Linked DNA regions of Homo sapiens: region 2 is linked to region 1. The links come from fine-mapping of genetic effects on gene expression. A gene starts in region 1. The other region holds a variant in brackets. All regions are shown on one strand. Distances are from middle to middle.

What was found. PIP is the estimated chance that this variant, and not a neighbour inherited with it, causes the effect.
Region 2: its variant is the best candidate, but not a certain one, in a credible set for the expression of EXOC3L4 in testis (GTEx, PIP 0.71).

Annotation. Positions count from the first base shown.
Region 1 is chr14:103,093,394-103,096,267 of GRCh38, forward strand. It overlaps EXOC3L4 (exocyst complex component 3 like 4), which reads left to right and starts at 1,332. Exons shown (of 12, transcript NM_001077594.2): 1 at 1,332-1,447. RefSeq lists enhancers at 201-770, 1,341-1,910.
Region 2 is chr14:103,128,383-103,131,282 of GRCh38, forward strand. It overlaps TNFAIP2 (TNF alpha induced protein 2), which reads left to right. Exons shown (of 12, transcript NM_006291.4): 4 at 1,358-1,472; 5 at 1,620-1,742; 6 at 1,933-2,033; 7 at 2,670-2,768. Among named protein-coding and RNA genes, the nearest start is that of TNFAIP2, 6.4 kb to the left of the region's middle. RefSeq lists an enhancer at 1-593. The variant G/C (reference allele first, on the strand shown) is at 1,278.

The sequences.
Region 1 (2,874 bases):
AAGTTAAAATTAAGTCATTCGGGTGGACCCCAACCCATATGAAGAGGAAATATGGACACAGACACGAAGTGGGAAGGCCCTGTGTTGACCCAGGAAGAAGGGGGGGCGCTACCCACAGACCCAGAAAACAGCCCCAGGAGAAACCAGCCCCACACATGCCTTGACTGTGGGCCTCTGGCTTCCAGAACTGGGAGAGAATAAACGTCTGTTGTTGAGGCTCAGTCCCTGGTCCTGTCGTGGCAGCCCTAGGACACTGGATGCATGGGGCCGTCCCTGCCCTCAGCCCTAGGATGCTGGTGCACTGGCCTGTCTCTGCCCTCAGCCCTAGGACAGTGGGTGCATGGGGCCGTCCCTGCCCTCAGTCCTAGGATGCTGGTGCACCGGCCTGTCTCTGCCCTCAGCCCTAGGACACTGGGTGCATGGGGCCTTCCCTGCCCTCAGTCCTAGGATGCTGCTGCACGGGGCCACCTCTGCCCTCAGCCAGAGGATGCTGGTGCAGGAGGCTATTTCTGCCCACCTCAGCACCCTGCAGCAGCCCCATCACACACCCTGGTGGCCCCAGCCCAGGTTGGGACAGGCCTGGATCCGTTCTCCTTGGATTTTCCCTGAGTTGTTTCCTAAGACGCTCGCTGCGGAATCCCCCTATGCAGGGGTGAGGCTGCCTCTTCTGGGAAGTGTCAGTGGCCCTCCCTGCGGCACGTTGCCCGCCTGACCCCCTGGTGTGGGGAGTGGGGCCCCGCCTCCACATCTTTGCCCCTGCCCAGGATGCCGTCCCTTCTCACTTCTGAGTGTGTCCTGTCTGTCCCTAGGGCCCCATCCCTTTCTCTAGCTCCTGAAGCCCCCAGGAATGGCATGTGGCTCTCAACTGCTGCCTTTGCTGTCACCGTGAGCTTCCCTGACAGGCAGGGTGCAGGGGTCTCGGGATGAACTCGATGGACTGGCCCAGTGCTAGAGCCTCTGTCCTGGAGGGAGGGGTCCTTCTGGGCTCCGGCACTGTGGGCTGAGTGTCCCCCGAGGCCAGCGCCTGCTTCCGCTGGCCTCTGAGCAAAGGAGAGGTTGGTGGTGTTTTGGGTGGCAGGCAGCGTCCACCCCCTGCTGCCTCGAGACCCTGAGTGCCGAGCTCCGCAGCCTTCCCCTCCCTTGTTCTCTGACCCTTGGACTGAGCCCTGAGCTGTCTGGAATGGAAAGCTGGAGTGACTGCCTCCGGAACGAAAAGGAAGTGGGAACTTCTCTGAAAGTGAAAGTATGGGGTCCTGGTGGAGGGTAGGGCTGTGGGTGGGGCCGGGTGGGCCTGGCAGGCGCTGACCATGGCTGGGAAGTCCCAGCTGTTGGTCACTCGCTCAGGCTGCTCTAGAGGCCCCATAGCCAGGGCCCGGCTCTGAGGGCCCCACGGGCCAGCTTCTCAGGGGGCTGTGTTCTTCCTGGGCCAAGGCTGCGTGCTCAGCAGGTATGTTCTGGGCAGGTGGAGCAGGAGGGCATGGGGTGCTGTGGGCGGGCTTGAGGACCATTCCGGCTCTGCGTGTGGCCTTCCAGGCCAAGGGCCTCACTCAGAGCCCAGGCCGACCAGGCCAGAGGGCCAGCGCAAATCACAGTGGACACACACACACCCGATACACAGGCAGACACACTCAGGTAGAAAGCACAGATAGACAGACACAGAAGACACCAAGATGGGCATGCAGGCACAGACACAGACTCAGAAGCACTGGCAGACCCTCTGGGGACACTCCAGGGCAGAGTCATGCACATACAGGGAGACACTCTCAGGCCAACACACAGATGTGCAAAACCGACGCCCAGAAAAGTGTGTATATGCCCGCGCGCTCAAGCTCAGGCATCAGATTCACTTTCCTGGTTTCCCCGGGAAAGTGCCGAGTACTAGCCATGGCTGGGGGCTGAGTCAGGCTCACTCCCTGCCTTGCGGGTCTCCTGGTCTCCAGGCTCTGTAACTGTCCCTCCGTCATGGCAGGTGTGCCCAGGGCTGGGATCAGGCCCACAGCAGGAGGTGCCGAACATGGTATGGGCTCAGCTGGTCCGGGAAGGCTTCTTGGGGGAGGAGCCATTTCTGCTGAGCCTTCAATGAGTTGACAACTGAAGAAGGAGGGGCTGAGGTCATTGTAGGCAGAGAGGATGGCCTGTGCAAAGGTGTGGAGGAGAGGTGGGTACTTCTGAGTGATCAGAGTGAGGGAATGAGTTGGGACTGAAGCCAGAGGGGTCATTAGGAGAGGCCTTGAATGCCAAGCTAAGGATGGAGCTGTGCTTCTTCCGAGGGCAGCAGCGGCTCAGGGGGCTTATGCTTTGTTGCTACTGTGAAGGGAAGTCTTTTAAGTGTCTCTTTCTAATAGGCTTTGCTAGGGTATAGGAAAGGTGTTGCTTGTATTTACATAATCAATGCACAAAATTTACTAAACCCTTTTATTAGCTCCAATAATTTTCAGCCTCAGATTTTCTAAGCCAACAATCATATCACCTATGAATAATGACAGTTTAATCTGCTCCTTCCCAGTGTTTACATCTCTTATTTATTTTTCTTTCCTTATTGCCTTAACTAGTTCTTCCAGCCAAATGTTGAGGAGTAAGAATGGTGAGAACAAACATCCTTGTCATTTTCCTTATTTGCAGGGGCTGGAAGGAAAAGGAAAGCTTGCAAGGAAAGCTTTCAAAGGAGGTTTATAGGGCCGGGCATGGTGGCTCACTCCTGTAATCCCAGCACTTTGGGAGGCTGAGGCAGGAGGATTATTTGAGGCCAGAAGTTTGAGACCAGCCTGGGCACACATAATGAGACCCCTGTCTCTACAAAAAATATAAAAATTAGCCAGGCATGGTGTTGCGCACCTGTAGTCCCAGCTACTTGGGACGCTTAGGTGGGAGGAC
Region 2 (2,900 bases), 35 kb after region 1:
ACAGCCTCAGGCGTCCCTTGACTCCATAGATCCCTGGGCGTGCCCGTCATTCGCACGGTCTGCATGGAGAGAGGCTTACTGCAGTGTGGAAAGGCCCAGGGCGGGGGAGTCCAGGGGCTGTTATTGTGGGGCTTGGCCACTGCTGGCCCCAGATCCTAGTGTGAAACTTTAGGAAGGAAGCCTGGAGGTATAGACAGTGTGGGCAGTGTCTGCCGTCTCGGGGGCCTTGGGTGGCCTGTGGGCTCAGTTCGTGTTGAAGGGTCAGCCTCTGGCAGAAGGATAGAGAAAGGGTCCAGTGGAGAGGGTGGGAGAGGAGTCAGCAGGGCATAGGGGAACTGGCACAGGGCAGGGGCCACGGGAGAGATAACCCAGCCCAGAGCCAGTTCCCGCTTGCTCGTCCTGACTCACCAGGAAATGCCGGGCACCTGCACCCCTGCCTGCCAGTCTTTCTGTCCCAGTGACCTCGGGGTCTGCTGGCCTGGGGTTAGCAACAGGCAACTAAAGCCAAGCTGGGCATGGAGCCCTGGTGAGAGGGTGCCCAGGGGGGCATCGTTGAAGCCTGTGTGCCAGAAATGTGGGGAACGGAGGGACACAGCTGCATCTGGATTGGGTGAGGGGCAGAGAGAAGGTCATTTGTAAACCTCTAGGCAGACAAAGGGCCCTTAGGAAGTGCCAGGGCTGGGCAGTCCCCTGGGAGCTCTGGGGCGCTGCAGAGGCGCCAGGACAGTGAGCCAAGATGCGTCTGTGGAGCAGTTTGGGGCAGCCCTTCCTGCCCATTCTGGCCTACCCCTGGGATTGGGAGGTGGCCGGGGCTGGTGAGATGCCCAAGACCTGCAGGGCTGGAGCGCAGTGGGCTGGGAGCTGGCTGGATTCCAGGGCTGCTGTGAGTAGGAGCAGGGTTTTATCTGGGTGACAGGTAGTCTTGGAGCAGGAAGAAGATCAGATCTTAAAGGTGGCTCTGGCTGCTGGGTGAAGAAGGAATTGTTGGAGGTGAGGGAAGGAGCAGAGAGGCCGGGAGGAGGCTTTTGCAGTGAGCCAGCGGGGAGCTGATGGGAGCCGGCCAGGGCGCCAGAGTGGCATGAGGCTGCTGATTTTGGGGGCTATTTTGGAGCAGGACCTAATGGGGGGGGGGTGGTGAGAGAGTCAGAGGAGGCATGATGACTTCAGAGTTTCTGTTCCAAACCAAACTAAGTAGATGGAGGACCCATCATCTGAAATGGGGACCGGGTGGGGGTGCGGGAGGGTGTGCTGGGCAGTCTGGGCCTGCCAGAGACCAA[G/C]GCTGAGGGCCTGGGCTCTAGCTTGAGTGGTGGTGCTGATTTGGTATAGTTGTCCTCATGCCAGCCTCCCCTGCCTGCAGTGACATCATCAACAGCCCCAAGCTGGTGGGTGAGCTGCAGGGTATGGGGCTCGGGAGCCTCCTGCCCCCCAGGCAGATCCGACTGCTGGAGGCCACATTCCTGTCCAGTGAGGCGGTGAGTCTCCACCTGGGCCAGGGAGGGGCAGGGAGGCAGCAGAGGAGAGGCTCGGAGACAGACAGGACATGGGCAGGGAGCTTGACGGGTCTTCCAGGTGAGCGAGGTGAGGGATAGTGCCCCAGTGACCTGCCCCTCCTCCTCCAGGCCAATGTGAGGGAGTTGATGGACCGAGCTCTGGAGCTAGAGGCACGGCGCTGGGCTGAGGATGTGCCTCCCCAGAGGCTGGACGGCCACTGCCACAGCGAGCTGGCCATCGACATCATCCAGGTACTGCAATCTGCCCCAGGGCACACGTACCGCCCGTGCACGTGCATGGGGAGCCCCACGCACATTCCGTCCTGTGTGCATACCCATGCCCACCTCGGGGCACCCCCTCTGTTCCCGCCTGTTTCCTCCCCGTCCCCTGCCCCCTTGTCCAGGCGAGCCCCTGCTCAGCTCACCCACCACCACCCTGCAGATCACCTCCCAGGCCCAGGCCAAGGCCGAGAGCATCACGCTGGACTTGGGCTCACAGATAAAGCGGGTGCTGCTGGTGGAGCTGCCTGCGTTCCTGAGGAGGTGGGTGTGTGCCCAGGATGGGGTCCCTGTAGCCACCGCTCTCAGAGCCACGGCCCCTCCCTAGTGCCTCAGGTGGGGAGCTGAGCTGGATCCCCGCCCTCTACCCCTGTCCCTGTCATTCTGAGCCAGGAGTTGTTTCCCACTCAGCCAGGGCACTGAGAGCCTCAGGTGGTCTGACCTCCACCAGGATTCAACGTGGGAGCCTCTTGCGCCCACCCCATCAGCAAAGCTCTCAGCAGAGCAGCCTCTAGCTTCAAAGAGGATACCCCAGGAGGGACTGAGACCCCGCCACCCCTTCATACAACACTCCTAGTCTCCACCACCTGAATTCTCTCTGCTCTCTCCCTCTCGACCTCTGAGGGCTTCTCCAGCCAACCACACGCTCACTCCTACCTGGTCTCCCAACTCTAGAGAGGGCCTGGGAGCAGCAGAGATGGGCTGGTACCCTCTTCAGGAGCCCAAGCCTTAGCTTGTGAAGCCAGTTCCATGATGCCCAGGGGCTAGCGGCCCCTCCCTTGGCTATGGGCAGCCAAACAGAAAAGTGAACCCCAGGAGCTGGCAGGGAGGGCAGGGAGGCTGCTGCTGTGGTCCCAGTGTTTGGGCTGGTCCTGAATGTGCCCCTTCTGGTTTCGCCAGCTACCAGCGCGCCTTTAATGAATTTCTGGAGAGAGGCAAGCAGCTGACGAATTACAGGGCCAATGTTATTGCCAACATCAACAACTGCCTGTCCTTCCGGTGAGAGTGTTGGGAGGGGCTTGCGGGAGTGGGAGTCACTCAGCGGGCAGGAGAGGGGAGCTGGAAGGTGGAGGGAGGAGGAGCTGCTTAGGCCAAGAAGTGGAATTCAAACCAGCAACATGTGTGAGGACT